Homo sapiens: one gene and its partners. The protein of the gene in region 2 purifies or fractionates together with the protein of the main gene of each other region. This does not show direct contact. Each region holds a gene or a part of one and is shown on either strand. Other genes may lie near its edges.

Region 1 (3,652 bases), on a different chromosome or scaffold from region 2:
AGACTCTCTGGGCCTACCTCAAGATGTGCCAGGGCTGCCTCAAAGCATATTACATCCACAAGATGTGGCATACCTGCAAGACATGCCACGGTCACCAGGAGATGTGCCACAGTCACCAAGTGATGTTTCACCGTCACCAGATGCACCACAGTCACCAGGGGGCATGCCACACTTACCGGGAGATGTGTTACATTCACCTGGAGACATGCCACACTCATCAGGGGACGTGACACACTCACCTAGAGACATCCCTCACTTACCAGGAGACAGGCCTGACTTTACCCAGAATGATGTACAGAACCGTGACATGCCTATGGATATCTCAGCTCTGTCCTCTCCAAGCTGCTCTCCCAGCCCACAGTCTGAAACTCCCTTAGAGAAAGTTCCTTGGCTCTCTGTCATGGAAACCCCAGCCAGAAAAGAAATATCACTGTCAGAGCCTGCCAAACCTGGGTCTGCCCACGTACAATCACGAACACCACAAGGTGGGTTGTACAACAGACCATGCCTGCATAGACTGAAGTACTTCTTACGTCCTCCGGTTCATCACCTCTTCTTTCAGACGCTAATACCGGATAAAGACACAAGAGAGGTGAGCTAACATCTTCCCTCAGGGATTAGGTGTCCTTTCCCTAGGCCTAGGAGAAGGTCAGTGTGACTGGAGTCCATGCGTGAGAGGACAGGTCAAGCATAAATGAAATTTCTTATCTTTCCTCCACTTGTGAAGACCCATTCAGTGTAGAGGCCCAGATCTGGGTTCAAATTTTAGCCCCACGCTTAAAAACTGTCACTTTACTTTTTTTTTTTTTTTTTTTTTTGAGACCGAGTCTTGCTCTGTCTCCCAGGCTAGAGTGCAGTGGCACAATCTTGGCTCACTGCAACCTCCGCCTCCCAGGTTCAAGAGTTTCTTCTACCTCAGCCTCCCTAGCAGCTGGGACTACAGGCGCATGCCGCCATGCCCGGCTAATTTTTTTTTTTTTTTTTTTTTTTTGAGATGGAGTCTCGCTCTGTCGCCCAGGCTGGAGTGCAGTGGCACGATCTCCGCTCACTGCAAGCTCCGCCTCCCGGGTTCACGTCATTCGCTTGCCTCAGCCTCCCGAGTAGCTGGGACTATAGGCGCCCGCTACCACGCCCAGCTGATTTTTTGTATTTTTAGTAGAGACGGGGTTTCACAGTGTTAGCCAGAATGGCCTCGATCTCCTGACCTCGTGATCCACCCGCCTCGGCCTCCCAAAGTGCTAGGATTACAGGCGTGAGCCACCGCGCCTGGCACGCCCGGCTAATTTTTTGTATTTTAGTAGAGACAGGGTTTCATTGTGTTAGCCAGGATGGTCTTGATCTCCTGATCTTGTAATCCACCCGCCTCAGCCTCCCAAAGTGCTGGGATTACAGGCATGAGCCACCGCGCCCAGCAGGGCACTTTACCTTTTTAAGCCTTAGCTTTCCTATCTGTAAAATGGAAGTAATAACATACCTCACAGGGTCATACGTGAAAGTGTCAGGGTGTCAGGCTCATCGTAGGCCTTATGTAAATTCTTATCTTCTAGCTGGATGTGGTGGCATGCACCTGTAATCCCAGCTACTCAGGAGGCTGAGGCAGGAGAATCACCTGAATCTGGGAGGCGGAGGTTGCAGTGAGCTGAGACTGCACCACTGCACTCCAGCCTTGGCCACAGAGCAAGACTCTGTCTCAAAAAAATAAATAAATGTTTATCTTCAACTCCTATGCTTTTCCCTTCCTGGTGCCCTTATTACAGCTTCTATATCACAGAGATAATAATACTCTATCACTTATGGGCCTCCAAAATTATTACTTGCTGACTTTGGGGGAGGAAATTCAATATTAAGACATGAGTGGGAATGCTCCTTTCCATTGGTCATCATTGATTTATGAGAAGTAAACTAGATGTGTTAGGGAAAATAACTGGCTAAGTTCCACCGTATGAAGTGTTTTTTAGTTATGTACATCCCATCCCCCATATTAAGAAAACCAGCTTGAAACAGTTCAGTGTCAAAAGGTATGCTCTCCTCATTCAAGCAGTGATCCAGGTAGGCAGGAGCCAAGGATTCACACTGATTTGACCTTGGAGAATGATTTTTTTTCTCTTTTTTAAAATTATTACATCTTCTAATATGTTGTAGGTCTTCTCCTTCTTTATGCCTCTGCCTGACCACTAGCTCATTCTTTTTTTTTTGGGACAGAGTCTCACCCTGTCACCCAGGCTGGAGTACAGTGGTACGATCTCAGCTCACTCACTGCAACCTCCGCCTCCCAGGTTCAAGCGATTCTCCTGCCACAGCCTCCCGCGTAGCTGGGTTACAGGTGCCCGCTACCACTTCCGGCTTTTTGTACTTTTAGTAGAGACAGGGTTTCACCATGTTGTCCAGGCTTGTCTTGAACTCCTGACCTCAAGTGATCCGCCCACCTCGGCCTCCCAAAGTTCTGGGATTACAGGCGTGAGCCACCGCGCCCGGCCCAGACAGCATTTATTATTGTGAATAATTTGATGTCTTTCCTTCCCAGTTGCCTTTTTATACATAGGCATTTTACATATTTTAATAATTGGGATTTTTAACATATACACATTATTTTTGTTGTTTATGGGGAGTAGGGGTTGAGAGAATGGCTCTGAAGTTTACGCCACGTGTGTTTGAAACCAGCTTCTGCCATTTGTTGTATGACAAATGCTTACCCTCCAAATCTGTTTCTTTATTTATGAGATAGGAATAATAATAGTATGTATTTCCTAAGATTATTGTAAGAACTAGTTGAGGATCAATTAAGTGTTCAGTGCTGGGCGCAGTGGCTCACGCCTGTAACCCCAGCATTTTGGGAGGCCGTGGTCGGTGGATTGCTTGAGCCCAGGAGTTTGAGACCAGCCTGGGCAACATAGTGAAACCCCCTCTATAAAAAATTCAAAAATTAGCTGAATATGGTGGCACACACCTATATCCTAGCTACTCTGGAGGCTGAGGCAGGAGAATGGCATGAACCCGGGAGGCGGAACTTGCAGTGTGCCAGGATCACGCCACAGTGCTCCAGCGTGGGCGACACAGCGAGACCCCATCTCAAAAAAAAAAAAAATTAATTGTTTAAGGCCAGACATGATGGCTCACACCTATAATCCCAGCACTTTGGGAAGCCAAGACAGTCTTGATCACTTGAGTTCACAAGTTCGAGACCAGCCTGGGCAACATGGTGAAACCCCATCTCTACTAAAAATACTAAAAAAAATTAGCCAGGCATGGTGGCACACACCTGTAGTCCCAGCTACTTGGGAGGCTGAGGTGGGAGGATGGCTTGAGCCTGGGAGGCAGAGGTTGCAGTGAGCCATGATCATGCCACTGTGTTCCAGCCTGGGTGACAGAGCCAGACTTCATCTCAAAAAAAAAAAAAAAATTAAGAGCTCCAAATTTATTGTTATTAAACCCTCATATCAAACTTTAAAATTGTTTAATTCTAATTATAAAAGTAATAAGTGTGTTATGGAAAAATTGAAAAATATAGAAGAGCACATAGAGAAAAAATCACCACTAATTCTACCACCCACATAATAGAAAATCACTTTTCACATATTCTCTCGCAGTCTTTATATACATATTTTTTGGGGGAAGAAGCAACTTAATATTTACTGTTCGCACAAAAAAAAAA
Region 2 (3,752 bases):
AATGGTGTAAATCTATAATTATGTATGCATATAATATGTGCAAAGTAGTAATGTTCATCAAGTTGTAAACAATGGTTATCTCTGGACTAGGATTCCAAATGACCTTTCCCCTATTTTTTTTGAGACAAGTCTCACTCTGTTGCCCTAGCTGGAATGCAGTGGTGCAATCATGGCTCACTGAAGCCTCAACCTCCTGAGCTTAAGCAATCCTCCCGCCTCAGCCTCCCAACGTGCAGGGATTACATGCATGAGCCACCACGCCCAGACTAAATATGTGTTAAACTAAAGCAGAAGCATCATTACCCGAGTAGGCTCTATAGGAGGAAAGAGGAGACAAGTGAGGAAAGGAGAGAGAATGAAAAAAAGAGACTTAAATTGTAAGCATTGAAGGTTAGGATGGGAAGGCGATTCGCATTTAAATCTCAGGACCCCATTTAGGCTTCTACCTCCCTGACCGCTGGGAGGCTGGTTGCTTTTCACCCCTCTGGGTTCACTTCTATTTGTCTGTGAGCTGTCAGCATCCTTCCCCACTTGTCTTGCCCTGCCTCTGCCAGGGAGGCAGAGTTGGGAGTCGTGGCACAGGCATGCACGCTGTGCAGCCTCCCACACCTGCACCCTGAAAGACCAACAGACACCCTAAGAAACCTGATACACAAGCACAAACTGATAAGATACCCAAAAAGTCAAAGGCAGACAGCAAAACATGGCTAATATTACACAGTACTGCAAGAGAAAGTAACACCAAAACAAAACAAAACACAGACATCATCTCTCAGTTCCTTCTCAAATAAAAAAAAAAGGCCAGGTGCAGTGGCTCACACCTGTAATCCCAGCACTTTTGGAGGCCGAGGTGGGCGGATCACTTGAGGCCAGGAGTTTGAGACTAACCTGGCCAACCATGGCCAACATGGTGAAATCCCCCTATCTCTACTAAAAATATAAAAAATTAGCCGGGCGTGGTGGCTGGCACCTGTAATCCCAGCTACTGAGAGGCTGAGGCAGGAGAACTGCTTGAACCTGGGAGGTGGAGGTTGCAGTGAGCTAAGATTGTACCACTGCACTCCAGCCTGGGCAACAGAGTGTGACTCTGTCTCAAAAAAAAAAAAAAAAAAAGGGTGGGTGAGGTGGTGGCTCACACCTGTAGTCCTAGCACTTTGGGAGGCCAAGGTGGAAGGCTCTCTTGAGGCTAGGAATTCGAGACCTGCCTGGACAACAGACAGAAACACTGTCTCTACAAAAAATAAAAAAACTAGCTAGGTGTGGTGGTGTGTGCCTGTAGTCCCAGGTACTTGGGAACCTGAGCAGGAGGACTGCTTGAGACCAGGGAGCTGGGCCTGCAGTGAACCATGGTTATGCCCCTGCACTCCAGATAGGGTGAAATGGGTAGTTTTTCACTTGATCTCCTCCTCATTGTCTCTTACGTTTAAACAAGTCTCAAACCTGGTGCAGAGGTGCATGTACCTCCATTGCTGGACAAGGCCTGACTTTTGCCTGCTGGTAGGGCCTCCTCAGTTCTAACCAGCCTTCTGTGACCTCATTCTCTATCCTGGTTCCATTTTCCACTTTGTGACTTCATCAGTTAAAGATCCCATTTCAGCCACCAAGGTTGAGAGGCCCCAAGACCCAGTTCCTTTACAGAATCAACCCTGGGGTGGCTTTAGGACTGGGCTCTTTGGAGCTCATCCTTGGACCCACAGTGGAGTGCTGGTCCGTGCTGATGTCTTCAGATACCAATCAATGGGCATTTGGCTCCTTGCTTCCACTGACCTCTTGAGTACTTTCAACGATCGGTGTCAGGAGTGCCCCAGCTGCTGTTTCTAGAGCATCTCTGCAACCCACGGTGGCCTCTCCTCTCTCTGCGGGCCATGGACAGCACAGTCCCTTCAGCCCTGGAGCTGCCCCAGCGGCTGGCACTGAACCCAAGGGAGAGCCCGAGGAGTCCAGAAGAGGAGGAGCCCCACCTGCTGAGCAGCTTGGCTGCAGTCCAGACCCTGGCCAGTGTCATCCGGCCTTGCTATGGCCCCCACGGCCGGCAGAAGTTCCTGGTGACCATGAAAGGAGAAACAGTGTGCACGGGGTGTGCCACTGCCATCCTCAGGGCCCTGGAGCTGGAGCACCCAGCAGCATGGCTCCTCCGGGAAGCAGGACAAACCCAGGCAGAGAATAGTGGGGACGGCACAGCCTTCGTGGTTCTGCTGACGGAAGCCTTGCTGGAACAGGCAGAGCAGCTGCTGAAGGCTGGCCTGCCTCGCCCGCAGCTCCGGGAGGCCTACGCCACGGCCACTGCAGAGGTCCTGGCCACACTGCCCTCCCTGGCCATCCAATCTCTGGGGCCTTTGGAAGATCCATCCTGGGCCCTCCATTCTGTGATGAATACCCACACCCTGTCCCCCATGGACCACTTGACCAAGCTGGTGGCCCACGCCTGCTGGGCTATCAAGGAACTAGACGGCAGCTTCAAGCCTGAGCGTGTTGGGGTGTGCGCGCTGCCCGGGGGGACACTGGAGGATTCCTGCCTCCTCCCGGGGTTAGCAATATCTGGGAAGCTCTGTGGGCAAATGGCCACAGTGTTAAGTGGTGCCAGGGTGGCTCTCTTTGCTTGCCCCTTTGGTCCTGCCCATCCAAATGCACCAGCAACGGCCCGTCTTTCTAGTCCTGCTGATCTAGCTCAATTTAGTAAAGGAAGCGATCAATTACTAGAAAAGCAAGTAGGCCAGCTAGCAGCTGCAGGAATTAATGTGGCAGTGGTGTTGGGGGAGGTCGACGAGGAGACCCTCACACTGGCGGACAAGTATGGCATCGTGGTGATTCAAGCTAGGTCTTGGATGGAGATCATTTACCTGAGTGAGGTGTTGGACACACCTCTGCTGCCTCGTCTGCTCCCTCCCCAGAGGCCAGGCAAGTGCCAGAGGGTTTACAGGCAGGAGCTGGGAGATGGTTTGGCTGTGGTATTTGAATGGGAATGTACAGGCACACCTGCCCTCACTGTGGTTCTCAGGGGAGCCACCACCCAGGGGCTGCGGAGTGCAGAGCAGGCCGTCTACCACGGCATTGATGCCTATTTCCAGCTATGTCAAGATCCCAGACTGATTCCAGGAGCTGGGGCCACAGAAATGGCTTTGGCAAAAATGCTTTCTGATAAAGGAAGCAGATTGGAAGGGCCCAGTGGGCCTGCATTCCTAGCATTTGCCTGGGCCCTGAAGTATCTTCCTAAAACTTTGGCAGAGAATGCAGGCTTAGCTGTCTCAGACGTGATGGCAGAAATGAGTGGAGTGCACCAAGGTGGGAACCTCCTAATGGGTGTGGGAACTGAAGGGATAATAAATGTGGCCCAGGAAGGGGTGTGGGACACCCTAATAGTCAAAGCCCAAGGATTTCGAGCAGTGGCTGAGGTGGTGCTACAGCTCGTGACTGTAGATGAAATCGTAGTGGCCAAGAAAAGTCCCACACATCAGGAGATCTGGAATCCTGACTCTAAGAAGACAAAGAAACACCCACCTCCTGTGGAAACAAAAAAAATCCTTGGATTGAATAACTAGTGATACCCTCAATAAAACAGGGATTGCCAAGAAGGGAACAATCACCCCAAAAATGAATGTTTGCCTTTATTCCGTGTTTGGTACTTGATTCACTTTCTTTAAATAAAAACATGAAGGAACATAAAATTTCTTTTCATGCGCTTAGTTCCTTTCCAGTTCTCGACTTTTTTTGTTTTTTTTTTTTGAGAGACGGAGTCTTGCTCTGTTGCCCAG
Region 3 (3,652 bases), on a different chromosome or scaffold from region 2:
CCCCTTTATGCCTCTCAACTAACCTGGGAGCTCTCTGAGGTCAGGTCTAGTATTTTATTCAGTTCCTCATCCAGCAGTGTCTGGCACACTAAATTCTAAGTTAATGCGGTTTGAAAATATTTGAGATTTGTGGTTGTGGGAGTTTACATAATCTGATATATTTGAAAATTGCAAAATAAAATGCTATTTCCGGCCGGGCATGGTGGCTCACACCTGAAATCCCAGCACTTTGGGAAGCTGAGGCAGGAGGATTTCTTGAGCCCAGGAGTTTGAGACCAGCCTGGGAACATGGTGAAAGCCCATCTCTACAAAAACACAAAAATCAGCTGGGTGTGATGGTGTGCACCTGAGTCTCAGCTACTCGAGAGGCTGAGGTGGGAGAATGGCTTAAGACAGGGAGGCAGAGGTTGCAGGGAGCTGAGATTACACCACTGCACTCCAGCCTGGCTGACAGAGCAAGACCCCAGGTCAAAAAAATAATAGTAAAATGCAATTTCCTTTGTATGATAGGCTTTTGAATGGTAACCACCATATCACTGGAAGGATTTTGTAATTATAAATAAAAAACCTGTCAGCAGAACATAAATACCAAGCTGTCACATGTCATTTGTGGAATGAGGTGACGTGACCCTAGGCCTGAACAATGTTCTATGCAGATTAACAGAAGGTTTCTGACACGAAAGCCGGGAAAGGTCTGCCTCTGCTTAGGGGTGAGTAGCAAACACCTTTGTGTTCCTTTGTGAACAGTAACATACTTCTCATCCATGAGTGCAGTGTTTCATAACTTTTTCTTTTGCCCAGACACTTGAGGGTGATAACATACCCTGTCTACAATCCTACGATGACATCAAACAAAAGGGAAGTTGAAGTATCCCAGAATTTTGGGTGGGTGGGGATGTAGAGGGGACCTAGAGTTTGAGGAAGGCTCTCAGTGATTCCGATTCCCAAATATTCTTTTTTTTTTTTCCTAAACCTATTTGGATTTTCAGCATTGGAAAGAATTGGGTTTTATAGCATAACACTTCTAAATTAAAAAAAAAAATTATTCTAGATCAAGTATTTTATACTTTGGTGAACAAATCTTTATATATACCTTGTCAATTTATTCATAATTTTATTCATTTTGATCATATATCGGCTTAGGTTTTTCTACATTGACATCTGCATGTCTACTCTTACATGGAAATGGCTCAAACTTCATGTTTTAATTTTTTTCGGCCTTTATTTTTACTCGGAGCTCTGTTGTGTATTTCTTGACATGCGGTGACCTTACCTGCTATTTCATACACATATCATGATTTCATACTAGAAAACAACACTCTGCTTTCTTCCCAGAATCCTTCTTGGCCACAAGAAGGACTGGGTTTTTACTGTGCAGTCTCTTTAAGCCACAGTAATTTCTCTAGCTTTCACGGAACACAGTCACATGTAGACTTCTATGATTTCAGTCTTGGATTTTAACTCCCAGAACAGATACCATTTTCTAATTACAGTTTGGATTATTTCTCCCCTTGTGGGCTTGCTTTGGACTTGCTCATCTGTCCAGTTTCTACCCAATCATATAATCTGCTGTGTCTCCCTGCAGTTTATTCAAATTGGCTGTCAGTATACTATATGGAAGAACTACTATGTTTCACACAAACTTCAGTGATTTTACTGGGAGCTCCCTCTTCTAAATTCTTTAAAAACATATAGATGATACTGATTATTCAAGGGGAATCTACTGTGAAATATTCTCCATTTAGAAAATGCCTTTCCATTTCTTGCTTTGCTTTACACAGTTTTTATGAGTCCTCTCAATATCATGGTAATTTTGAAAACTAAGAGCATTTGGTATTAAGCTTGTTAGACTTCCTAAAAAATCCAAGTAATGTTCATAAGTTTCCCCTTTTTACAACTATACTTATTCCCTCTAGGAACTTAAGTGGATTACAGAGAAGAAAATTGCCTTCCTCCAGTTTATGCTTATGCCTTCAATTATCTTTTCCCATTCAAGTCTACCAGCTTGTCTGTTACACAAAGAGGACTCATCGGCAGTTTGTAATTCTCAGCTTCCTCTGTAATCTAGTGAATAGATGTCACTAACAATGTATCTAGGCCAGTGGCACATGGCTCTTTGAAATAAGTAGTTACATTCTTTACAAAAAAGTTCCACTTTCTATTGTTAATTGTTTTAAAACTCTTGGGTCCACTGATCCAACCATGGAGATTTCATTATGTCTAATTTGCCCATTAGGTCTAGAATATTCTGGATGTATCACTCTTATCTAAAAGCTAAAGAAATATGATTACCTCTATTGGTATTGCCCCAGTTCCACACATTGGATCGACTATTATATCATAAGGTAGAGGATCACAGAGCCTAGAGAAAAGAAAACAGCCTATGTGAAGACTCACTCAAAAGCTGAGGCTTCTATACTGATGATTCCTGAAGCTTTAAGATTGAGGACCTACCACACTAGCCCGAAGGAACACCAATCTACACATATTTTAGAAATCAATTTGTGGCCGCGCACGGTGACTCACGCCTGTAATCCCAGCACTTTGGGAGGCTGAGATGGGTGGATCGCTTGAGGTCAGGAATTCAAGACCAGCCTGGCCAACATGGCGAAACCCCGTCTCCACTAAAAATACAAAAAATTAGCTGGGCGTGGTGGTGGGTGCCTGTAATCCCAGCTAGTACAAAGGCTGAGACTCGAGAATTGCTTGAACCCAGAAGGCGGGGATTGCAGTGAGCCAAGATCATGTAAGATGCAGCCTGGGTGACAGAGCAAGACTCCGTCTCAAAAATAAATAAATAAATAAATAAAATCAATTTATAATGATATGTTGACTGTATATTCCATTACTTGGGGAAAAAAAATCCTTATAACTAAATCTCCTTTGACTATCTTCCAAAATCCCATTTCACTCTCAGATGAAATTTAGTTTGCAGACATCTTAAAGTACACATGTGTACACACACACACACACACACGCTCATGCATACTTTTTGACAACAGTGTTGTTTTCAACAGAAACCTGTATTACATTAAAAAGACTCAAAAATGTCTCAAGTCAAACATGCATCAATATAAGGTTACTGGCAATGAGACATTCAGTATTCCTTTCCTTCTGAATTTAAAGCTAATCTTGATATAAAAAAATTGCTCTGTGGGACTAGGTAATAAAAAAAGGAAAAAAAAATGCTTTACTTTGAGCACTTAGTATTTCCTGGGCATGGACTTAAGCTCTTTCCATGCATTATCTCACAGAATCCTCAGTAAGGACCCTGTTAGATAATTATCATTATTCTCATTTTAAAGGTAAGCTGATGCAAGGAAACATGAAGTTACCTGCCCAGGGACACAAAACTAGTAGGTAACAGATTCAAGATTAGAGGCATTACTGTTAGTGGCTTAACTGTTATCCTCTTTATGAAGCATCCCACCCTGAAACAGGTCAGTAGGTTTCTTCCCTTCTCTTGTTCTTCTAATCTTTTCATGTGCTGGTGTGGGACTTATCGCATGTATGATAACTATTTATCTCCCTCACAAGACAGATTCTTGGGGGTTAATAGTGGGTTCTTATTGTAACATTGGTCCTGCTCTATCTCCTTGCTCCTACTCCTCAACACATGGCAATAGAATCCTTGGCAACCCTCTTGAGGGGG

The links.
Region 1: the proteins of CCT8L2 (region 2) and SIMC1 purify together in Homo sapiens (affinity purification with mass spectrometry; one large-scale study listed by BioGRID and IntAct). This does not show direct contact.
Region 3: the proteins of CCT8L2 (region 2) and THUMPD3 purify together in Homo sapiens (affinity purification with mass spectrometry; one large-scale study listed by BioGRID and IntAct). This does not show direct contact.

What each region holds. Positions count from the first base shown.
Region 1 is NC_000005.10:176,290,364-176,294,015, forward strand, and holds part of SIMC1 (SUMO-interacting motif-containing protein 1), read left to right. Parts: coding exon 1-592; intron 593-3,652.
Region 2 is NC_000022.11:16,590,664-16,594,415, reverse strand, and holds CCT8L2 (T-complex protein 1 subunit theta-like 2), read left to right. Parts: upstream 1-1,605; 5' UTR 1,606-1,865; coding exon 1,866-3,539; 3' UTR 3,540-3,665; downstream 3,666-3,752. UniProt on the Homo sapiens protein: Possible molecular chaperone; assists the folding of proteins upon ATP hydrolysis.
Region 3 is NC_000003.12:9,376,529-9,380,180, reverse strand, and holds part of THUMPD3 (tRNA (guanine(6)-N(2))-methyltransferase THUMP3), read right to left. Parts: intron 2,363-3,652; coding exon 2,293-2,362; intron 1-2,292. UniProt on the Homo sapiens protein: Catalytic subunit of the THUMPD3-TRM112 methyltransferase complex, that specifically mediates the S-adenosyl-L-methionine-dependent N(2)-methylation of guanosine nucleotide at position 6 (m2G6) in tRNAs.